Regions from separate parts of the Homo sapiens genome. Here region 2 is linked to region 1. Evidence: fine-mapped expression QTL. A gene starts in region 1. The other region holds a variant in brackets. All regions are shown on one strand. Distances are between the middles of the regions. Region 1 holds the start of FARP1 (FERM, ARH/RhoGEF and pleckstrin domain protein 1). Region 2 holds the start of LOC105370327 (a long non-coding RNA gene).

What was found.
Region 2: its variant is fine-mapped to the expression of FARP1 in testis (GTEx, PIP above 0.99).

Annotation. Positions count from the first base shown.
Region 1 is chr13:98,136,172-98,148,742 of GRCh38, forward strand. It overlaps FARP1 (FERM, ARH/RhoGEF and pleckstrin domain protein 1), which reads left to right and starts at 6,923. Exons shown (of 27, transcript NM_005766.4): 1 at 6,923-7,321. It overlaps LOC105370328 (a long non-coding RNA gene), which reads right to left and starts at 7,739. Exons shown (of 3, transcript XR_931670.4): 1 at 7,668-7,739. RefSeq lists silencers at 6,374-6,423, 6,664-6,973.
Region 2 is chr13:98,321,496-98,334,066 of GRCh38, forward strand. The region is part of intron 2 of FARP1 (FERM, ARH/RhoGEF and pleckstrin domain protein 1); the gene reads left to right. It overlaps LOC105370327 (a long non-coding RNA gene), which reads left to right and starts at 6,711. Exons shown (of 3, transcript XR_931667.3): 1 at 6,711-6,829; 2 at 7,041-7,312; 3 at 11,276-11,743. The variant A/G (reference allele first, on the strand shown) is at 7,667.

The DNA.
Region 1 (12,571 bases):
GGCCTCTGAAGCTTGACTGAGTCTGAATCTCTTTCTTGGCTGTGTACTGTGTGTGACCTTGAGTAAATTACTTAGCCTCTCTGTGTCTCAGTTTCTCCTTTGTAAAATGGAAATAATAATACAAGTCCAAAAAGTTGAAGTTGAAGGTCAAAATGTCAGCACTCTTTTTTTTTTTTTGAGACAGAGTCTGGCTCTGTCATCCAGGCTGCAATGTAGTGGCGTGATCTCGGCTCACTGCAACCTCTGCCTCCCGGGTTCAAGCAATTGAGCCACCATGCCTGGCCCAAAATGTCAGCAATTCTAATCAAAATTGTAATATGATTATTTTCAGAGCTTAACAAAATGATACCAAAATTCATGTGGAAAAACAAACATGTAAGACTAGCTGGGAAAACTTTTGAAATTAACAATAATTATGGGGTCCAAGCAGTATCAGATAGTAAAATACATTATGAAGCCATAAACACAAACATTTTGGTAACTGGCACAGGGATAGGCAGATAAGTAGAAAAGAATATTCATAGAAAAGCGGATCCTAAGGTAGGACAAAGTTGGCATTTTAAACAGGTATGGAAGATGAAAGTAAGATGGGTTTTCAAATCGTATCTGCTCAGCCATTTGGAAAAAAGATGTTGGAGGCATGTGTCATTTCTTATGCCAAAATAAGATATAGATCAATGATAAAATATAAAAATAAAACCATTAAAGTATAGAAACATGATGATTTTTTAAAACATCTTGCATAGAGAAGACATTTCCAAGCATGACACAAAAATGTGAAAGCATAAAAGTAAACACTGACAAATCTGACAACATAAAAATTAAGAACTTGTTGTGAAAAAGAGTACCATATTAAAAAACGTAAAAAATATTCATTACATGATAGCAAAGGGCTAATTTCCTTAACATATAAAACATATTAAGAGTTAACAAAAAAAGATAACTCAATGGCAAAATGAGCAAAGCACATGAAGGGCAGTTAATGGATAAATGCCAATGAATAATTTTTAAAATAATGAGATTTTGTTTTTGCCTGTAAGACTGACAAATATGCCTGGGAGCGGTAGCTCACGCCTGTAATCCCAGCACTTTGGGAGGCCGAGGTGGGCAGATCACGAGGTCAGGAGATTGAGACCATCCTGGCCAACATGATGAAACCCTGTTTCTACTAAAAATAAAAAAATTGGCTGGGTGTGGTGGTGCATGCGTGTAATCCCATCTATTTGGGAGGCTGAGGCAGGAGAATCGCTTGAACCGAGGAGGCAGATATTGCAGTGAGCCTACATCGCACCACTGCACTCCAGCCTGGGTGACAGAGTGAGACTCCATCTCAAAAAAAAAAAAAAAAAAAAAAAAGACTGACAAATATTAAGTTTGCCAATATCCAAAGTGGGCTAAAGAATGATCATTCTCAAGCATGGTTAGTGGGTTCATTTATTGTTCCATAGTAAGTCATGCAAAGCTTAATGGCATGAAATTACCAGTTTATGGGATTGGGAATTTGGAAAGAACACAGGGTTCTTCTCTGTCCATGGTGTCCTTAGGTGGTATGACCCAAAAGTCTGGGGTGGTTGGGATGGCTGGGAACAGGGACAGTGGGAGCTGGAGAACTCATTCTGAGGTGGCTTCTTCACTCACGTTCTGACACGAGGGATGGGATGATTGAAAGACCAGCTCATCTGGGACTGTCAACTGGAACATCTCCAAATGAGCCTCTTGAGTATGACAGTCTCAGGATTGTTGGGACTTCTTACATGGCCACTCAGATCTCCAAGAACAAGTGTATGCAAAGAACAAGTTAAAAGCAGCATGGCTTATTCTGACCTAGCTATGAAAGTCACATCACGTCCACTGTATTCTATTGACCGTAACAGTTATGAGCCTGTCTAGATTCAAAGGGCATAGACATAGATCTGAACTCTCAGTGGGAGGAGTGTACGATAATTTGTGGCCATGTTTTAAAATCTCTACAGTGGAAGAATAAATTTTTGCAGTGTCTTTGAAGTACAATTTTGCAATATCTACCAAATTTTAATATGCAACTATCTTTTGAACCAAAGGCATCCCACACAGATAGTCCCCGGAATCCTATCCTCTACCTCCCCCACTCTCTCCTTAAGCTGTTCTCCATCTGGCTTCTGTCACCACCAGTGCTGCCCCTTCCCCTCCAAGGTCTTGATTCTTTGCAGAAGAATAAGGTCTTACCTCCAGATCCCAACTAATACCTCATAAGTTCTCCAACCTCAGATGTCTACTTCATGTCAGTTGCTTTCTCTGTAGCTCAGTTTCTGCTGGTTCCATTAAGGGCTGCTGAAACTGAGCTCAAAATCCCAAGATTTCCCACCAGCTACACAAGGAGATTCATATTCTTCCTGTTGACACGACTTTGAAACTGCTCATCCTAATATTCTTCCTCCTACCACATTATGCTGTGTTATCTATTGCTGCAAAACAGGTTATTCCAAAATGTGGCTTAGAAGAACACTTATCATCTCATACTTCCTATGGGTTAAGACTCTAGAAATTGCTTAGTTGGGTCCTCTGGCTTTGGGTTCCTCATGACACTGACATCACTTCAAGTCTCAGCTGGAAAGGACTTGTGTATCACATGGTTGTTGGCAGAATTCAGTGCCTCCAGGGCTGTTGGAGTAAGGCTTCCCTCTGTTCCTTGCCACTGTGGGTCCTCCATAGGACATCTTACAACATGGCAGCTGGCTTCATCAAAGTGAGCAAATGAGAGGGCAAGACCGTATCAGTAAGAAGTTATGGGCCTGGCGCGGTGGCTCACGCCTGTAATCCCAGCACTTTGGGAGGCTGAGGCGGGTGGATCACGAGGTCAGGAGTTCAAGACCAGCCTGGCCAAGATGGTGAAACCCCGTCTCTACTAAAAATACAAAAATTAGCCGGGTGTGGTGGCACGCGCCTGTAATCCCAGCTACTCAGGAGGCTGAGGCAGAGAATTGCTTAAATCCAGGAGGCAGAGGTTGCAGTGAGCCGAGATTGCACCACTGCACTCCAGCCTGGACGACAGAGTGAGACTCCGTCTAAAAAAAAAAAAAGTTACAGTGCTCTGTGACCTAATCACAGAAGTGACACTGCCTTCCTTTTCTGTATTCTATCCATTAGCAGCGAGTCACTAGGTCACACTCAAGGCAGGGGGATTACACAGAATGAGCCCACCACAAATGCTACAAGCAGATCTCTTTCCGCCTTGGGTTTTAATACAGGCTGCCTCAGTTACTGTCAGTGCATACTGTCACGTCCAGAGAGCATCATCACCCTAAACCCAGGTTCTCCGAAAGGTGATGTGTTGAAGGGGAGGGAACTATGGAATAAAAAGTTGTGTTTCACTGTGACGTGTGATCTCTTAATATGAAAGATTTGCTTGCCCCCACACACTTTTGTATATGAGCAGAAAATTCCTGAAAGACTGTAAAAACTGTTGGGAAAATTATTTCTAAGAAGCGAGATTAGGGATGCAGGAAGGGTTCCTTCTAGGTTTCACTTCATACTCTTCTATACTGCTTAATTTTATCTTGACATGTACACACGTTTTACAGTAAAACAGTTAAAATTAATAAGAGGAATTGTTAAGCACAGGGTGATTCCTTAATCCAGAAAGATTTCTAAATAACCCATGCCACAGCTTGGGATAAAAGGGGGATCTAGGGGGATTATACATTTTTATATTCTGAAAGTTAAGCATAAATGACACACAATGACAAGGAAACGCCTAAGTTTTTCAGAAGTTGATTTTCCAGGTTCAGGATTTTCGAGGCCAGGTACCCCTGGCTTTTCAGGGAGAGGAATTTAAAAAGTGCTTTCTGGCCAGGCACGATGGCCTTATGCCTGTAATCCCAGAACTTTGGAAGGCCAAGGCAGGGGGATCACTTGAGCCTAGGAGTTCGAGGCTGCAGTGAGCTATGTTTGTGCCACTGCACTCCAGCCTGGGCAACAGAGCGAGACTCCTTTTTTTTTCTTTCTTGAGACGGAGTCTCGCTCTGTCGCCCGGGTTGGAATGCAGTGGTGTGGTCTCGGCTCACTGCACGCTCTGCCTCCCGGGTTCACGCCATTCTCCTGCCTCAGCCTCCCAAGTAGATAGGACTACAGGCGCCGGCCACCATGCCTGGCTAATTTTTTGTATTTTTAGTAGAGACGGGGTTTCACCGTGTTAGCCAGGATGGTCTTGATCTCCTGACCTCGTGATCTGCCTGCCTTGGCCTCCCAAAGTGCTGGGATTACAGGCTTGAGCCACAGCGCCCAGCCAAGACCCTCTCTTAAAAGAAACAGTACTTTCTATCAGGTTAGGTACCAACCGCGGAATGTTGGTGAGAGCTGGGAGGAAACGTAGGAAGTTCTCTAGTGTGACCCCACCGCTTTACAGCCTCTCTAACTAGATTCCCAGAACTGCCCCTTCTCCCCTCTCTTTTCCCCCATTAACTCTCTCCCCATGGGCTCCTGCCCTCAGCCTGCAAACCTCAGAACGGCTCCTTTAAAAGTCACCTTCACAAATGTTGATAATGTTGAGATAAGGCAACATGGGATATTATGTATTATCATATTGATTAATATGATCAATATATTATGTGTTATGATCATAAATAGTTTTAAGATCACAACTAAATCTAATTCTAGACATACAAAGACTATGAAAGAAATGCTGTAACATGTAGAAAATGTCGGTCTTGCAAAGAGAGTGACTGGGAAAATGTCACTTTTCTAATTTTCTGCGCTTTCTATGATTTTTTGCTTTTATTATTTTTATGATTTTTTTTTTGAGATGGAGTCTCACTTTGTTGCCCAGGCTGGAGTGCAATGGCACGATCTCGGCTCACTGCAACCTCTGCCTCCCGGGTTCAAGCAATTCTCATGCCTCAGCCTCCCGAGTAGCTGGGATTGCAGGCGCGCACCACCACGCCCAGCTAATTTTTGTATTTTCAGTAGAGACGAGGTTTCCCCATGCTGGCCAGGCTGGTTTACAAGTTCCTGACCTCAGGTGATCCACCTGCCTCAGCCTCCCAAAGTATTGGGATTACAGGAGTGAGCCACCGCGCCCGGCCTAATTTTTTCCTTTTAGTTGGGAGGTATGACATAGCACTTTGCTACTACGTGTAGTCCTTGGACCAGCAAGTAACACCTGAGAGCTTGTTAGAAACAGTCTCAGACTTACTGAATCAGAATCTGCATTCCAACAAGATTCCCTGGTGATTCAGGTATACACTAGAGTTTAAAAAGCCGCCTACAGCAACTGTTCTCAAACCTGGCTACACACTGGAATCACCTGCGGAACTTTACTGATGCCTGGGTTAGAATCTTTATATATTTGGCTGGGGTGCAACCAGGGTGTTGTTTTTTAATCGCAGATGATTCCATGAGTTTGAGACCCACTGTCCTAACACTGTGATCCTCCAAGTGTGATCCCAGGACCAGAGCAACATCACTATCTGGGAATTTGTTAGAAATGCAAACTCTCAGGCCCCACCCCAAACCTACTGAATCGGCAGCTCTGGGGATGGAGCCTGACAGTCCTTTATCCCTGCAGGCGATTCAGATGCTTGCTAAGGTTTCATTAGGTAGGTCGGGGATGCGGCCCAAGAATGTTCATTTCTTGACGTTTCCAGGGGCTGCTGGTGGTGGTCGTGGTCTGAGAACCACACTTAGAGAATCACGAGCAGAAAAAAATCTGATCTGTGACACACAGCTGGTTGGGCTGACAGAGCAAAGCCTCAAACCCACCATTTCTTCTCTTCAACCACAGACCACCAAATCTGCAAGTATTACATCTCTGCTCCTCCCCAGGAGCTGCCCACAAGCACCCCCTACTTCCAAGACCCCTGTTCTTGTCTCAACCCGCCCTTCTATCAGGGTCCCTACACTCCACTTCTGCCCAGCTCCTGTCCAGCTGTGAGTTCACTTGAGGCCTCTCCCGTGAAATCTGCCCTCTCGGTCTGAGGTCAGGGAACTCCTGTAAGACGCAAAAGGCCCACGGTTCTGAGCCAGTGGCCTCCGAAGGCCGGAATCCGCTAGCCCCGGGTCTGGCAGAACGTCACTTGCTGCGCCCTAGGCCTCTTCCCGCCACGCTTAGAGAGAGGGACTGGAGGCTCAGAAGGGGGAAGAGAAGGTAACGCGGCAGCTGCTGGGTGGGGACGGTGACTGTGCCCCTAGATCGCTGCCTCCTGGGTCCTGAATCTTGCTCCCCGCTCCGTAGAGTTCCCGAAACCCCGAAGGCTCTCAAGCACCGCAAGCCACTCCTAACCTCCCCCACGCCATTCCCCAAGGGCACTGTCCCCCGAGGCTGGGCGGGCGGGAACTGTCATGGGATTCGCTCGGGCGGAGGGCGCTGGGCCAGGACGTGGGCGGGCGCGGGGTGGCCGCCGCTCCCCCAAGCTTAAGTCCCGCGCAGCCCGGGGTGGTGCCGGAAGCCCGTGCCTGTGGCTCCGGGGGAGGGGAGGGCTCGGTGGGTCCCTGAAGACTGTCCTCCCCGCGCGACGTCGCAGGCGAAGCAGCCCCAGGCAGGACCTCAAAAAGCGACCTGCAGAGTCCGAGCCCCTGACCGCCCGCCTGCCGCTCCCGGCTTCGCCGTGCACACGTCTCCCGCTCTCCCCGGTTCGTTTTTCGCCACAGCTGCTGGATTCGCGTCTCGCCAGTGGCGCTCCCCGCGCTGCATTAGGTAGCGCCGCGCGGAGCCCGGCCCTGGCCGGAAGCCCAAGAGAGGCGCAGATCCCCGGCGGCGCGCTGGGCTCGGGAGGCCCCTGGGCGCACCTGCCCGGGCGGAGCGGAGCGGGGCGGGGCGGGCGCAGGGCGCGGGCCCGGACGCTGGAGGGGGCTGTGGCTCTCCCGCGTCCCCGCTGCTCGGGCTGCGCGGCGCCCGCCTCCCCCCGCCGAGGGGCCGGCCCAGACCCGGGGAGGGGCGGTGGCCACTGCACTTCCCGCTCGCCGGCCTCAGAGGCGGCGGGTCCGGCGCGGGCGCAGCGGTGCGGGCGCTCGGCTGGGGCGCGGGGCGGGGACGCGGCCGCTGCCCGCTTTGCGCCGCTCCTCCCTGCGCGAGTAGCGCTGGCCCCGGCGTCGAGGCGGCCATGGCGACCCGGAGCCCGCTCCCCACCCACCCCGCCTGCTCCGCCCTCCCCTCCGCCCCGCGCCACCTTTGATGGCTCGGACCTCAGCCGGCCACCGCCAGCCCTGCTCGCGCGCCCGCGCCGCCGCCGCCCGCGGGTATTAATAGCCGGCGCCGCCGCGCCCTCGGCCGCCGGGGGCTTGGGAGCCGCCGATCCCGGAGCCCGAGCCGGGAGAGGGAGCCGCCGCAGCCGCCGGCGCTGTGGAGGTAGGAGGCGCGCGGTGAACAATGACCGCGGCGGGAGGGCGGGGGCCGGCGGGGTCCGGGCCGCGGGCGGCAACTTGTGCGAGTCCAGGCTCCCGCAGCGCACGGCCGCGGCTGCGGGCGAAGGTGGGCGCGTGGTCCCCGAGGTCCTGCCCTGCGCAGTCGGGCGGCGGGTCGGGCCCGGGCAGCCCCGGCCACCATCGCAGGAGCTCGGGGGCCTCGGGGCTCCGGGCTGCCCCCTGCGCCCCTCTCCCCTCACCTCCGCCGACGTCGGGCTGCGGGGCTCCGCGCCGGTCCCCGCTCGCCTCCCCCGACCCCGGCGCCCTTCCCCCGTTTCCTTCCGTCCTACCCGCCCGCTGACAGCGCTGGACGCCGCTTCCGGACCTCGGGCCGCAATCTCGGCCCCTGAGGCCGGTTGCGGGCCGGGGAGGTGGCCGCTGGCGCGGATGCCGCCGGGTGCCCGCCGCTCGCCCACGCGCGGCGCGAGGGTTCCCGGCGGGTGACAAAGAGGAACACACCCTCTGCCCAAGTTAGATTTGTGTCTCTCTTTACTGTCTGCCTTTATGCAGGGCAAAGTTTTTTTTATTTTTTATTTTTTAAAGCAAAGGACAGATTGCTTTGCGGCGAGTATTTCCAAACAACTTCTGATTGTGGTTTTACGATTCAAGTTCCGGAAACTTTAGCTGTGTGATCCGGCTGGACCCCGGAGACTCTGTGTGTGTGTGTGTGTGTGTGTGTTTTATTTGAGGGGGGGAAATACGAATTCCCTGTAATGAGTCTGGATCTCGTTTGTGGCAGCTGGAGGCCAGCGGCTGTTGGGGATCGAGTAGGGTTCCCCAGAAAGGAGGGAGCTGAGGCTCACAAAGAAGCGAGGCCCTGGTATCTGATCAGTTCGTGGAGACGTGGGAGAGCCTGCTTGTCATCTGGAACAGTTTAGCAGCCTCGGCCTCCCTGTCTCTCCCAGCCCTGGGGAGTACCGGTGGCCTCTGGCCGTTTCATTATATTGTTGTTAAGGCTCTTCTCCTTGTCAGTTTACCAGGTTTGACCGCCCAGCCCTGGTCTCTGCGTGGAAACCCCCGGGGGCCCCTCTCCTTCCAGTAGGCAACATCTTCAGAGCCAAACCCTGGCCTAGCACTGGCTTCTGTTTAATGTGCTTTGCACGTGGTGACTTGCGGAGCCCATTTCAGAACATCCTCCAGCATTGTCTTGCTTTTCTTATTCAGTCTGAACAAGGAGAGGAGAAAGAAACATCTTTCTGGTCCTGAAAGCTTTAGGGAGAGTTGCCTTAAAAATTGGCTTCGTTGTTCCGGAGACTTTAGGAGGGCCCTGCTTCATCCTATCTTTGGCTTTCTCCCTCCTTCCACAGTGTTCTCGTAGGGGGTTTATTCTCAGTCTTTCGGATGGGTTGGTCTCCAGGATGTGACAGTTTCTGACAGTGTGCTTCATAAGTGGGTACAGCTAGCACATGGCTCACTTTATATTCCTGCAGCATCGTTCTGCAGCAAGGCATCAATATTGGAGTTACTCCAAGCACAACGAAGCGTTTGTGTTTTTAGAATGTCTGGCTAATAGATCTGCTTCTGGGTAAAATAAATAGAAGCATTATTGGGCAATGGCTGCTTTACTGAGGGAATTGTTGGTGGAGACAGTGAGTAGATGCCTTCCTAGCCCAGCGCCTCCCAGAATCTCTTACTTGTTTCTTTTATGTGAATGGGAAACTGGAAACCCTCGGTGTGGAGGTGGCTGTGCCTCCTAGGGGCAGATTCTATGGTGCACCACCCCGCCCCCGTTACTTGGGGTGTGGTGTTTCATTGAGAAGTTCTGTCACTGTGGGAATCCTTTTGAAGCGTGGTTTCTAATGCCCCCTTTCACATTGATATTCTCTTCCTTTAATTGATACAGGGATGGATTTATTCCTTGCTTCATAATAGAATGTTAACTTTACTCTGTAGCCAGACTTATCAAAGAAGATCTTAAAATAATTATCCTGGACAAGTTTCTTACTGGGTTATTGCATTCACCTCAGAATTATCCAGAGTTTACAAGGAACCTGGAGGAACGTTTTTGTTTCACTTTTCGTTAAAGAAACTGTCCAAGGGGGCTGGGCATGGTGGCTCACACCTGTAATCCCAGCACTTTGGGAGACCGAGGCGGATCACTTGAGATCAGGATTTCCCAGCCTGGCTAATATGGTGAAACCCTGTCTCTACTAAAAATACAAAAATTAGCCAGGGGTGGTAGCAGGTGCCTGTAATCCCAGCTGCTCAGAGGCTAAGCCAGGAGAATCGCCTGAACCCAGGAGGCGGAGGTTGTAGTGAGTTGAGATTGGGCCACTGCACTCCAGCCTGGGCAACAGAGTGAGACTCTGTCTCAAAAAAAAAAAAAAAAAAGAGAAAAAAGGAACTGCCCAAGGAAATTGTTTTGTTTTGTTTTTTGGTTAAAGATACAAATAAGATAGCATTGAAAGGGTTAGTTTTTTTTAAACAGTGAAGCTTATACTCATTTAATTTATTGAACACCTAAGAGCTTAATTCATTTGGAAAATTGTATATATTTATGAGGAGGATGCTTGTGATAAACATCAGAAAAAAACAACTCTTTTCATCCTGGACGGGATTAGAGAATACTAGAGAAAGGATAAAAGGCTGGTTTCTGCAGGCAGAATATGCTTAGGAAAAATGGCATTGTGATTTTCCCAGAGGATAAGAGAAATTCTGTGGATTTGTAAGTACTGTACTTGCCTGATTTTTTTTTTTGAGATGGAGTTTTGCTCTTGTTTCCCAGGCTGGAGTGCAATGGCGCAATCTCGGCTCACTGAAACCTCTGCCTCCCAGGTTCAAGCGATTCTCCTGCCTCAGCCTCCCCAGTAGCTGGGATTACAGGCATTTGCCGCCATGCCCAACTAATTTTCTGTTTTTAGTAGAGACGGGGTTTCTCCATGTTGGTCAGGCTGGTCTTGAACTCCTGACCTCAGGTGATTTGCCCGCTTCGGCCTCTCAAAGTGCTGGGATTACAGGCGTGAGTCACAGAGCCTGGCCTTGCCTGATGTTTTGATAGCATGGTGGACTGGACATTTTAAAGAAGCCCTTTGTAACTGGCCTTGCTTATTGCAGATAACTGCTTAGTGTTTTTGAGAAATGCACTTTCCTCACCAGCTGAAGGTGCTACAGATAAGAGGGGCAGGTATAGTCCTGTAATGCAGGTGCTAAAGTCTTTCTACTTTGGAAGGACAGGCATTCCCTGTATTGGTTACCGTTTGCCTGGGAAGGGAGGCTGTGGGGTTTTAGGCTCTCGTGGCAGTCTCTCTCCTGTTGTTTGGTGCTTTTGATTGAAAGGAGCCTCTCCAAGCCTGGCTATTGAATGGGAAGCAGCGGATCAACTTCTTTTCTTGTCTTTTAGTGTCAGAGTTTATTCTGTGGTGGTACTGGGTCACAGTCCTTTCTCTCTGTTTCACCCATGGCAACTTAGGTAGGCTGTTACCTCCTTAACCACTTCCACATGGCCAGGAAGATCAGAGCCAAACGGTTTTCATTCAAATTACTTGAAATACTGATTTCTCCAGTCCTGTTCTGCCAAATGCAGCCTTTGTTTTCAATCAAGAAGCCCCCAGAAAACGTGTATTTAAAACTGGCAAAACTTTTTATAGGATGCCCTTGCCCTGGTTTGAATTAGTTAAAAATGTTTGGCCAAGTGGATACTTTGAGCAAAAGTGGATAATGGATACATTACTAAAATATCATGCTCGAAGCTTTTGATACTAATCCGGCGAGACTGAAACTGAGGCATGCTCAGTGCTGCCTGCAAACTGTTAACTCAGATTTTAAGTTTTCTTAGTTTAATGTGGGATGGAAATTATGAACTTCAAGACTTGCAATTAATGTGGGAATTCATCATTTACACTGAATGAATTTCATATGTAAAACTGTCATATTTGTTCACACATTAAAAAAAAGAAGAGCCTCAGGCCACACTAGACTGCCTTTAACTCTCAATTATGATAATAACCTCTGACCACAAGAGTAACTTCACTTTATGTGCAGACTTTTGACGAAATGCTTTGCATAAATTTATTATCAATTAGAAGACTTAAAAATCCAGTATTATGATGACTTTCAGTTTTTGTTCTTGTTCATTCAGGATCTAGTATAGTATCTGAATATAGCAAACCCTTGGTAAATTATTGTGTTCTGTTTTCTTTTTGAAAAAAACTCGAGGCTGGAGTGCAGTGGTGATCATGGCTCATTGCAGCCTTGACCTCTTGGGCTCAAGCAATCCTTTCATCTCAGTCTCCCGAGTAGCTGTGACTACAGACACATGCCATCACGCCCAGCTAATTTTTTCTTTAAAAAAATTTTTCTTAGAGAGTCTCACCGCTATGTTGCCCAGTCTGGTAAATCCTTGTTGAATGAATAATAAATCCAGTTTTTACCATCCCTTCAAATTAGTCTTTAGGGTTTTTAAAGGAAACTTGTTATTAGAATTGATAGATTGCAGTTCTGGCAGTTTGATATTTGATTTTGTTTTCATTTCATTCTAATTTAGCAATTGAATCCTTAAAGCTAAGTCAGATTGTAAAAAGACAGAGGTTCCTTTTCAAAAAAAAAGACAATAAGGTGCGGTGGCTCACGCCTGTAACCCCAGCACTTAGGGAGGCCAAGGCGGGCGAATCATCTGAGGTCAGGAGTTCAAGACCAGCCTGACCAACATGGAGAAACCCCGTCTCTACTAAAAATACAAAATTAGCCAGGCGTGGTGGCGCGTGACTGTAATCCCAGCTACTCGGGAGGCTGAGGCAGGAGAATCGCTGGAACCCGGGAGGCGGAGGTTGTGGTGAGCTGAGATTACGCCATTGTACTCCAGCCTGGGCAACAAAAGTGAAACTCCGTTTCAAGAAAACACAAGACAATAAAAGCATGAAGAAGAAAATAAAACAAACTTGAAATCCTGCCACCTGTTACTGACTCCTACCTTAGCATTTTGGGATCTGTTCTTTTATATAGCCTTCTCATTTCTTAACCTGCGCCAAATTTGACATTCTAATTGTTTTATATGGTACTTGTCTGTAAATTTAATGTGCTCACCATTCCTTTTTGTACTTTGAAGCTTGCTTCTGGGATACATTTTCCTTCTTCCTGAGACACATCTTCTAGAAATTCTGTTAGCATCTGTTGGTGGTAACTTCAGTTTCTGCATGTCTTAGATACCTTTGTTCTTGAATGGTAAGTTTATCTGGGTGTGCAATTCTGTATTGTT
Region 2 (12,571 bases), 190 kb after region 1:
CATGCTCTTTAAGTGACAGATAGACTGCTAGATTTATGGCCAAAGTAGCAATACCAGAAGACATTCCAGGGGGATGATGACCTGATGCCATTGCAGAAAAGAAACACTTTAATATGGAGGCAGAGACAGAAGGCTCTGTGACAAATTACCTGTGCGTGCTAAACGGGTGCTTCTTCTGTGAAATCAGTTAAGGGAAGCCTCTTGGCCTCATATGACTTTTGTATTTTAGCTACTTAGTCATTAAAAGAAAACCATAGCTCTTTGAGCATTGTTATTTGGAAATTTTATGGAATAGAAAAATGTTTGATAATATTAATCATCTGAGAGAATTTGATGTCACCACCTTCCAGCCTGGGCTTTGGATTTGAGCAAACTTGAGTTGAAATCTTAGATCTGCCACGTAATAGCTGGGGCAGTTATCAACCTTCCCTGCTCTTCAGTTTCTTCCTCCAGTACTTCCTGGTGGGGTTTCTGTGAGGGTTAAAATGGGTATTGTTTGATTGAAAAGTACCTAGCACAGGGCCAGGAGCGGTGGCTCACGCCTTTAGTCCCAGCACTCTGGAAGGCCGAGGCTGGCGGATCACCTGAGGTCAGGAATTCGAGACCAGCCTGGCCAATGTGGTGAAACCCTGTCTCTACTAAAAATATAAAAATGAGTGGGTCATGGTGGCAGGTGCCTGTAATCCCAGCTACTCCGGAGGCTGAGACAGGAGAATCACTTGAACCTGGGAGGCAGAGGTTGCAGTGAGTGGAGATTGCACCATTGCACTCTAGCTTGGGTGACAAGAGTGAAACTCCGTCTCAAAAACAAACAAACAAAAAAATGTGCCTGGCATAGGACTTAGGAGAGAGTCAGCACCACCTGAAAGGCACTCCAGGAAAAATACTGGCAATGTGAAGGATTGTTAGTGACATGATGCCACTTCCAGGGTGAACACCAGCCTAGCTCCAGCCCAAATCCACATGCTTCTGGGAGCACTGGGATTTGGACTGCAGTTCATCTTGCTTGCAAGAGCCACCATGCTGCACCATCATCCCTCTCACTTGTCAGTGCTCCTTAGCCGTCAGTGCTCCTTAGCCGAGTACAGTTCTGACTGCCATGCGACCAAGACCCGGAGCTTACATGCTCCTTATTGGAAACAGAAGGAAAACTCTTGTGTGATAGGAAGAAGGCACTGAGTAGAGGCTGTTCCCCGGGAATTATCCAAGAATCACAGCTCAGCCGAGGACTTTCTGGTACTGTGCATTTCAGATTTTAAATTTCACGGTTATAATAACCATCTTGCACAAAGGCAGCCGAAACCCAACCAACTGAAAACACGGGCACACACATACCGTATATACCACGCATACATGCATGTCAGCCACACACAGATGATTTGCCTAGAAATTTGTTTCTCCAGACCTTTTGGCAGAATAGCTATTTGTCATGGGAGAGGGAGGAAAATATTTGCATTCGTAATAGGAAGAGTTTATGGTTGTGAATAAGCTCATGTTTGAAAAAACAGTAATATTAGATATATGGTTGCTGGCACTACACAATTGCAGGATGTAATAGTGGCTACTAACATTAAACATTACTTAAAATTACATGCATTATAGAAATGGGGATATTTATCTCATGTTTAATGATCCGTGGTGAAAGGATTTGTTGCTTACAATCCTTAAAATGATCAATATATTATTTTAACACTTTTAAAAGGGAGTTGGTTTTTTGGTTGTGAGTTAGGAGCAGTTGTCATGCACATATTTTATAATAAAATTTTAGATTTGTTGCCACAGTTTCATTAATATATTTAAGCAGGTGTGCCCAGGTAGTGGAATCAGAAAGGCAACTCGATTTTATTTAAAATATGGTTCAAGTGGTCTCTGTAATGAGAAATTCACATGGCTTTTTTTTTTTTTTCTAATGAGTTTCCTGCTGGCTTCGGAGATGTGGTTGTTTACAGTAGAAGTATTTTTTTTTTCCATTTGAGGCTTCCATTATTATTATAAGATCAATAATAAATACACTGAATTTATGTCTGTTAAATATTTTTAGCCTGCTCCTAACACATGAAAATATTACATACCTGTTTTGATCTATTTGTATTCTGTTCCTTCCAAGTTTTTCTATTTTAAAGGAAAATTCTTGAAGGCCACCTTTTAAGGTTTCTCTAATTGGCACATCTCTGGTCATTAACTTTTTACTTTTAAAGGAGAGCAGAAAGACAGATTGTAAAAACAAAAAGTAGATATCTAGTTTATTTTGCTACTTGATAAGAAAAAAATCTCCAATTCTTGCATACTATTTGCAGTTAACTTTATTCAGCCTTTAGAGGAAAATGTCTCTTCCTTTCCAGAATTCAAGCCCCATAATTTTGTCTTCCTGTTGAGTGTCAACAATTTTTTTAAAGCCTATATGAGGAAGCTAACTTCCGAGCAATTAAGTACTCAAGAACCAGAATTGAATTTAGTCATTTTTATATTTATAACTAATACACATTTTGAGTTTCATCACAACTTGAACTATGTCTGAGGAGTTGCACATGAAGGATTTTATTACTTGATTAATATATTAAATGCACTAGGAAAATTTCCTCGTAAAGTTTCATTAAAGAGTTAAGATAGTCCTTTATTTCATGCGTACATTGAAGTTATGTATAATGGTGGCTGTGAAATGTTTTCTAAATTTCAGGTGGCTCTTGATTTTCTTTGTGTTTTCATTTGTGGCTTGGAAAGAAAAACAAAGGTCAAGTTACTCTCATCCTTTATCACCCAGTGTTTCATGAAGGAAGCCTCATTTTCATGAGGAAATCTTGGCGTGTCTACTCCAGCTTGTGTATTTTGGCAGTATGGAAAAGCGAAACACGGTTCCTGCTGCGCCCACTGCTTTTTGTGTAAGATCTATTTTGTATTGGGTAACCTTGGCATTCAGTGTTTTCACATTTAATTCGTAACTGTCTGCAAGTTGTTATGAAGCTGAAATTGATGATCCATCAGTTCAGTCTAAAGAGCGTGTTGGAATCATGATTTGATATTTTCTGGAAAGAGTTTACTTTTTGAAAGGATGCCCTTAGCTCTTTTTCTAATGTCTTCAGAAGAAAAAAAATGGTTTACTATTTTCAGAAAAAAAAGGCGATGTACTCACTGGTCTATTTTCTGTGATCAAAATGTGTTGACCACCTACCCCTGGTGTGTGTTTCTGAGCGTCCTTGGCAGCCTCTGCCTTCACAACCATTCTCTTTTCAAATTCCTCTCCTTTTCCCTTTCCCGTTTGTGCTAGTAAAGACTCTTGGAAGCATCAGGCCCTGATGAGCTGAAGCCCCCATTCCAGGGGTCTTTGGCTGCTGCATTTCTGACTTGAGCCACACAGCGAAGACCTTCTGACCTATGGCTTCTGACCTATTGGCCTTCATGGCCCATGGCTGCCTTCCGAACTATTATTTATGGTGGGCATTGAGGGATTCTGTTTGTTGGCCATGCCTTAATGCTCTGTTTTTTGAGGCCTTAACACAGTAGTTGAAATTTCTTGGCCAAATTGGATAGAGAATGTGAAATAGATACTGTAGAAGCACTTCAGAACACTCTGTCATGAACTATGGGATAATAATGAAGACTTCCCAGACTGACTGGTAAGTAGTCCGTAAGGAAGACTTGTGGAAATAAACCCTGAAAAATATGGTTTATGCATTTGATGTTGGAATAGAAGAAATTATTTTGTTTCTATGTTTCAACAGCCTATCTTTCCATGAGTATTGAAAACAGTGCTTCTATTTTTTACATTATTGGATTCATCTTTACACTCAAGTGATTACTAACTTGGTTAATAAAACTGTTGTGTTTTCCTTTTCTTTTTTTGTCTTTGTCACGGCTCTCTATCTCATATGTTCTGTTTCTGGTACTCTATCATCTGTACGACACTGCTGAAAGTGAAGGCTCCCACCTGACGCCCCAGCTTGCTGATTAAATTTAGGTTAGGCTGATGATTTAAGGAGTAAACCATCTCACCAGCACTGTTCCAGTTCTTCACTGGTGAACCAATGGTAATGTCTGGGTTGAGAGTTACAAACTGAAATCCAGGAGAAATGCTGATCTTCCCTGTCTTGCTAATCTACCTTGTACTGGAACCCAGAATCAGGTTCCTAAATTCTAGATTACACAGCCGTGACAGAAGGCATTGAGAAATCAGAGAGGCACATACTTCTCCAACACATACTCAGGTTTCCTCAAGAATATTTGTCATAATATTTGTAGCTTGTCCAGTTTGATCTGCATGGAGTTGTCATAAGAAAGTCTTTGTGGCTGAGGATTTGGTAAAATGCAGCATGCTGGTGAGAGTTATATCTCTTGTTTAAAACAAAACAAAACCTGAAACAACCAGGGCCTGAAAGCCGCACTGTGTTCCCAAGACTCCGCAACAGCCACAGGGCATTTTAGCAGAGAAAACAAAGCTTGTTTTATAGCTTCTCTTCATAGGTCTCCCTGACAGGCTTAGAGGGACATTGAGTGAAAATGGAGCTGTTAATGATATAATAAATGCTTCTGAAATTTTTCTATTGGGCAATCCCTCAATAGCTGACTGCTTTGAAAAATGAATGAAAATCAAACATAAAGACACAAATGGCTTCGTCTGCTTGGTAATGAATAAACATATGCAAAAGGACAATCAGTTGCAGGTGTGTTGCCTGTCTATAGTGTTTTGTTTCTGCTTTTGTGTTTGTCTTCCAAGCAATTAATAAACCAGCCTGGCCTATAATATCGTTCTGGAAACATTCTTTTTCACAGGCTCAGACTTGGAGATTTAGCCTTAATGCTTTCTTTTCTTGTTTTAGTTAAAAAAACCCACCTACATAAAATTTACCACCTTCATCGTTTTTAAGCATACAGTTCAGTAGCTTTTCGTATTTTCACATTGCTGTGAAACAGAGGTCCAGAACTTTTTCATCCTGCAATCTGAAACCCTATTCCCACTCAACAACTTCCCATTTCCCCCTCCCTTGGCCCCTGGTAAGCACCATTTTGTTTTCTGTTTCTGCGAATCTGTTGCCTGATTTCTTTTCCACACGTGCTGGTTCCTGCATCTCCTCTCCTGATTCACTACAATTGGGACTAATCATGCCTTTCAGGAGGAGAGAACAATATGTAATTTTCACAGTGGTTTTTATAAAATAGAGTACCTGGTACGTGCCCACTAGGATATGCAGCTCCAATAAACTTTTCTGTTGGCATAATTCTTTAGAATATGTTAAAGTCATCTCACGTAGTTGAGGAGTTAGATGGTGAAGGCAGATCTAAGCTTTTAAAACTAGATCATTTTGCTGCCTGTGTCAGCTAGAATTGAGTCTCAACTGTCCAATTCCTAGGCAAACCTCTGAACTCATCTTCTTTTAGGGCATGTATAATTTTTGACAGATGACAGATCTGTTTTAAAAATGTGCTTATTGTCCTTTGGTATTTTAATTTGATTTGTTTTGAGCACTCATGTTATTGTTTATAAATGTGGGCCAAATGCATTTAATGAGTACACGCAATTGGTAGAATACTGTCGCTCTGAATAACCTTAACTCTCTATGGAAGGAGACACACTCCATTTTCATTTGTGTAAATTCTTTGCTGTAGGTCACCACTGTAGATTCACATTTCGAATGCTGTCAAATCATAGAAGTATTAAAAAATATTTGTTTTTAAAGATGGCTCTTATTGCTTGCATTGCTTTTTCAGAAACCTCTCTCTGTTTTCCAATACGGCTTTTATGTCAGTGCTGGTATTAGGTCACTGTAGGCTGCCCATGTCACTAAATTTAGTTTATAATTTCACAGGATTTTTTTTAAAATGTGTCATCGAAACCCATGTTTCTTAGTATATATCTTACATTTGCCTTCAATTTTCAAACAGCTAACTTTTGCAGTGATGATACCTACATAAAAGGGAATTATCATTAAAACGGTGCTTGTTAGGATGGTTTACTTTAAGATAAGGCTTCATAACAAGGGACTTAAACTGAGCAAAAAACTCAAAACCAGTGTGAGTTAACAATGGAATGTGCTAAATCTCAGGCTTCCTTCTCTTGGCCAGATTTTAAAACAATCACATTGAGAGCAACAAAGTTAACTGGTGAGCCAGTTTAAAGGGAACTGAAGTTTCTGATAAAGTCTTTCCCTCTTGTCCATGGGGGATACATTCCAAGACCCCAGTGGATGCCTGAAGCCATGGATAGTACCAGACCTGATTGCTGTCACTCTGGACACGTTTCTGTTGTCAGCTGAAGGATGAGACAGTTTGTAAATTTGGAAAGGAGCTTTTTGTTTCTCATAAAGGGTCGCAGCCTGCAAAGCGGGCATTCTGACAGGCTAGGAAGCATAGCTTCTGGTCAGAAGCCAGAAACAGACACTTCAGAGGGGAAGAATAAGACAACAATTTATGCTGAATGGGGTGGGTAATAGGCATATTCAATAAGCTATGGGGGAGTCATGAATATTCATGAAACGAGAACCATGCGCACGCGATTGAGATTCACGGTCCCATGTTCAAAACATGGCAGTGTTAGCATGATCCAAGGGCAGAGTTTTCTGGACTCTAATGTGTTAAGCTGAAGCTGAGGACACGCAGGCCCTCACTGCACAGCCCCCACAGGCTGGTGGAATGCTGGTTTGTTGTTTCATTGACATCACAAAAGGGAGGGGTGGTGTCAGTCTGTTGGTTAAGTCCTAGGTGGAATCTTTGGAAAGAACTGGCTTTTGTTCAGCCCTTAGGGAAGAAAGCCTGTGGCCTTTAGCAAGCAAGGATGGGGGTGTAACCAGGCTCATCAGACCTCCCATCCCCTCACAGCCACAGACCCAGCTTTAAGGTTACTCTGGGGTCCCCTTGGCCAAGAGGAGGGTCTGTTCTGTGGGTTGAGAGCCTTAGGATTTTATTTTTCTTTCTTCTTGTTCATGCCTTCAACAAGTATAAAGCCCTTTCCATCTTAACTAAGCACTTATCACACACTGTGGCTGTAACTTCTGCAGCTTGAGGTGCGATGGCGAAAGTATTATTAATTTCTTTTTCCTTCTTCACAGTTTCCCAGACGGAAGATTATTCTTACTGCAGATCTTAGCAACCTCAGCACATGACTCTTTTTCTTTCCTCATTAAGTCAAGAACCTTTGGCCTTTTCACTTAAAAGAAGCACTCTAAGGCTTCGCTTTGACATACCCCAGTTGCCAGCATCACTACTGTTTGGGACCATTAGGAAGTAAATTCAGGGAGACTTGAACACAAGCACTGCTTATCTCGAAAGCTGATCTGCTCACCGAGGTGGCCCTTGAGCACGGACAGCCTGGATCTGCTGGGTAAAGGGAGAAGTTATGTCCAGGGTGGGACAGAGAGGACGGCGAGAGATTTCCTCACTACTCAGAACAGCGGGAAATTCAAAACTTAGGGATTATTTCTGAAATTTTCCATTTAAAATTTTCTATTTAAAATTGACGAAGGGTAACTGAAACCAGAGAAAGCAAGACTGACGATAAGGGAGGGGCCTCCTGTACTCCAAGAGCACTGAATCTGGAAAAACTCAACACATCGATGGAGTCATATATTTAATTTTTTCTTAAAAGCCGCCTGCGGGGTATTGTAGAAACGCTGCGCTGCCTATCACAGCTTGTGATGTGACACGTTCATTCTGCAAGTTTAAACTTCGCCTAGGT[A/G]TTTCTTTTCCTGTGTGACCGTCACATGACTAGTTTTGTTGTGCATTGTTGTAGAAGTTAACATGTTTCCCTATCGAAAGAATGTCATCTTCTATTTTCTCTGTTTCTTTTAAGCTTTTTTCATATAGTTGGCCTTTTGTTAATGGTCAGCATTTATGGCTTTTTGCAGACAGCATCTCTTTGAGCAACAATTTCTTGAAATAAAAAAATATATTCTTGGCCAGGTGTGGTGGCTCACGCCTGTAATCCCAGCACTTTGGGAGGCCAAGGCGGATGGATCACTTGAGGTCAGGAGTTCAAGACCAGCCTGATCAACATGGCGAAACCCCATCTCTACTAAAAATACAAAAATTAGCCGACCGTGCTGGCGTGCACCTGTAATCCCAGCTACTTGGGAGGTTGAGACAGGAGAATCACTTGGACCTGGGAGGCAGAGGTTGCAGTGAGCCGAGATGGTACCACTGCACTCCATCCTGGGCAACAGAGCAAGACTCTGTCTCAAATATATATATATTTTCCCTAGTTGGCTTTAGACTCTTGACCCCAGCTTATAGTTGTTTTTGTTAAAGACTGTATTATTATGGTCTCTCCATGGGAATTATGGTTTTAAAATTATTTTATTCATTCAGCAAATCTTTATGAGCATCTACTATGCATCATGCTGTTCTCGTGAACAAAACAAGATCCATATCCTGAGGGAGTGTGCCTTCCAGCAGAGAAAGACGGCAGTGTGTAAGGAGCGTTAGAAGAAGATGTTGTCTTTTGTGTGTAGAAAGTGGTATGTAAAAGTGAAAAATAAAAAGAAATAGAGCAGAATCAGGGATGGAGGTGTGGGGCAAATTGTAATTTTGAATAGGGTAGTCAGGGTCGGCACTTTTGAAAGCCTGACGTGAGCAAAGCGAAGAAAGAGGTGAGGGAATTAGCCACAAAGATTTCTGGGGACAGAGTGTTCCAGCCTGTGCAAAGGCCTGGAGGTGGGTGTGTGCCTCGTGTGCTAGAGAACAGCTGGCCTGGCTGGAGAGGAGTGAGCCAGAGGGAGGACATTTGGATATGAGCTCAGGTAGGTGACAGGGGTGGGGCAGATCACTGGGGACCCTTTTTTCCATTGTGAGGACTGTGGCCTTTACTCTGAGTGAAAAACATTTTGAGTAGGGGAGTGACATGTCTGATTTAAAGTAGAAGATGATTGTTTCTGATAAAGCTGACTTGAGAAGCTATTTGGAAATTGTTTATGTGATAAGTCAGATAGTAATCATAAGTGACAGAGGTTAAATGCAGGCAGAGAAATTCAAGGAAATTGTCAGAAAAAATATTTCATCTACCGGGCATGGTGGCTCACTCCCAGCACTTTGGGAGGCCGAGGCAGGTGGATCACCTGAAGTCAGGAGTTCGAGACCAGCCTGACCAACATGGTGAAACCCCGTCTCTACTAAGAATACAAAAATTAGCTGGGCGTGGTGGCAGGCGCCTGTAATCCCAGCTACTCGAGAGGCTGAGGCAGGAGAATCACTTGAACCTGGGAGGCGGAGGTTGCAGTGCGCCAAGATCACGCCACTGCACTCCAGCTTGGGCAACAGAGTGAGACTCCATCTCAAAAAAAAAAAATTAAGGTACTCACAGAAGGTAAAGAATGTCATTAAGCTGCGTGGTATCCCAGTTCCTGAGTGTCATGAGTGTCCACAGATGTATGAGTGTGTATGTGCAGTAGAGTCATTGCAGGAACATTTAGGCATGTGAGGCTCTCTAGGTTTGGGGCCAGAGGACATGAGTGCTTAGAAGTTTTCAGGCAAGCCTCATTTCCAGAGTGCCCTTGGAATCACTGCTATCATCAGTTGGAATTAGTTCTTTAATTAAATCCTGGCCATCGATCAGCATCCCTTTCTATTGCATTTGACGGAGCTTACAGAATCTGTGTTGTAAACAAAGCAGAAGCATCTTATTTCCCAGAACTGTGGTTTATTAACACCTAAGGAAACTGGTTGTCTGATACTCATATTTTTAAAAAATGTGCTTAGTAATTCATAATCTTTTAGTCCTTCTAGACTGTCAGCATTGTTGGATATGCTTTATGTATACTTTTGTTATATGCTTATTTGTAAGTTTCTTTTTCCTAAATCGAGAATCTATGTGTTCGTATTTTGTCCTACTCTAGCAAGCTTTCAGTGGGAAGAGACTGCCATCCGTAGTGAACCCATATCATTTTTTGTTTCTTAGTCGTTTCCTCATTTGTGGATCATAGAGACCCCATTTCCCACCTTTTTCCTCTTCTAGTCAGTGTCTCATTCCCCAGCTGCTCATCAGAAGATAGTGAAATATGAGGGGAAGTTTAAGTTTTATTTTATAGTGATTAAAGTACGGTGAGGTTTAAAAATACTGAAGGTGGAATTTTCATAGCTACCAAACGTTGAAAATAACACAACATATTTCAACTAAAAATGAAGCAAGGTGGGTAACTGACTTCTTGAATCCCTGCTGGATGATGGCACTGGTGCTTAGCACTTTATGTATATTTCCTTCATTTAACTCTCACAACCACTCCTTTATCGGACGTCATCATTCCATTGTTCAGATGGGAAAGCCAGTGTCCAGGCAGGCCAGGAGACCTGCCTGAGCCCCACAGCTAGTAAGTGGCAAGCCAGCTTCAAAGTGTTGACGTGATGAGCCTAGAACCCCTGCCTTCCCCTATTCTATGCTGTTCCCAAATATCTCCCACAGTTTTGCGCCTAATAGTAATAGCTTCATCTGTTGAAAATGACATCAAAGTTAGTTTTCCTTCCATCTTTATAATGAAAATACTTTTTATAGTGCTTGACTTTTTCTACCCTCCCCACACCCACCCAGTTTACCAGTCCATTTTGTAGATTGTCAGTATTTTCGGATATGCTTTTTTCCCCATTTTTTAATTGTGGTAAAATATACGTAACATAACTTTACCATTTTAACCATTCTAAGTGTACAGTTCAGTGGTATTAAGTATGTTTATGTTGTTGCTCAGCCATCCCCATGTCTCCAGAACTTTTTCATCTTCCCAAACTGAAACTCTGTCCCCATTAAACACTAACTCCCCACTCCCCTCTCCCCTTCCTCCACCCCCAGCCCTACAACCACCATTCTCCTTTCTGTGTCTGTTGGATATGATTGTACTTTTGTTATATACCTGTTTGTAAAGTTCTTTTCCATATTAATCTGAGCTTTCCAGCTTTTCAAAGGAGAATAAATACCAAGTATCTGGTTAGAACTCTGACCTCTTTGCAGAACACAAAGCTGGAGCTGAAGCTCACCCCCACCCCCACTCACTCCCGTGGTTAACAGAATATTAAACCTGAAAAGTACATTTTAAAAAAAGAATGAAAAGTAAAAATGTTTGGGAAGTTTTCTGGAAACTAAAGAGCTAAGAATTCTTAAAGGATCCGGAAAGCTGTGTTTTCATACTTCAGTTTGATGCATGGATTTTCAGTTTAAAAGCCTTTTGCATAAAAACATTAAAGTCTCCTTCTAAGGGGTAAGAAAATCTTCCCATTCTCCCAACTGACTATTTGAAAAAAATGTTAAAAAAGTAGTTTCTGTAGAAAGTGTCTGTAAACAGAATAATTTTTCATTCACGTTAAGATCGGTTCTTGGGGAAAAGCTGTGCTTCAGAGACAAGGTTGAAGAACTTCGCCTGCATATGATGGAAGATGACAATGGGAACCACAGGTGTCATTGGTGGCTTTGTTTTACAAAGTCTTCACCTTTCTGCTGAGTCACGGGACTAAGTTCAACACAATTTCTACTTTCCGCCTTCCTTTGGAATAATAGTTTTGGAAGCCAAGTATTAGTATATGATACCAGGTGTGTTTTCTAAAGATTCAGGTTCAGTGGGCTGAATGCACTTTCATGACTTCATTAGACCACTGAGCCCAAGGAGAAAAGTGCCAATCTTACTAGACATGAGGAAAAAGACACATCTTTTGCTCTTGCTGGAAGTGGTGTCCTACTTTCTACAAGCAGTCGTCATCTGGTTTATACTTGCCTTGTTCAGTTTTTGTGTGATATTTTATTCTCTGCCTAATAGATATTAAAGTATCAAGCTGTCAAGATGATTTTTTAATTTAGATAAATTTTAGAATTTTTTATTCATCTACTTCTAAAAGGGTGAAAAGATAATGAATTACTCAAGATCAGGAGATGACAAACCTAGCACTATGAAGAGCTGGATTCTCCCCTAAATGTTTTTGTTTCTGTTGCTTGCTTCATACCAGGTTTGCAAGAAAGCAGTAGAAATCCCCCACATGTACACACACACACACACACACACACACACACACACACACACACAAAATCTATCTTTGCAGAGTTTTGGAATGAAAGAAGGAGGGAGTTGTGTACTAATGACGCCGTGGTTGTGTCGTTGCTCCATTATAGTGAGGGAGCTGAAAGGGCCCATTCTCTTCACAGCCTGGAGTCGGGGACTCTGAAACCTAATCTGAAGTGTGTTTAACGAGGGTTCTGAACGCTGGGACTTATTGCTGAGGGGAACAAGGAGACAGTGTGTCCTCAGGGGCAGTGTGGCCGCCCCTAGAGCCACAGCAAGCAGGAAGAATCGCAGCATTTGTGGTCAGAACCGATGGGCAGGCCTAAACATTTAGCTACTTTGCCCCAGAATGAAAGCCTTGTTCCAGCTCCCCAGGGTTTGGATTTAAAGTTTTAGTTCCTGTCGGTGGTCGCAGTTTCCTGACGAGGGTGCCATCCAGTCTGCTGTTCAGCTTTTGAGTCATTTAATTTTTCTTCTTCCAACTTCTCCTCCTCCACCTTCTCCTCCTCCACATCATCATCATCATCCCAAATACCCATTAGAGCTCGCCTAGTCTGGATGCCGTTCTAAGGGCATGGTGTATACTAAGTCGCTTAATCCTTACGGTGACC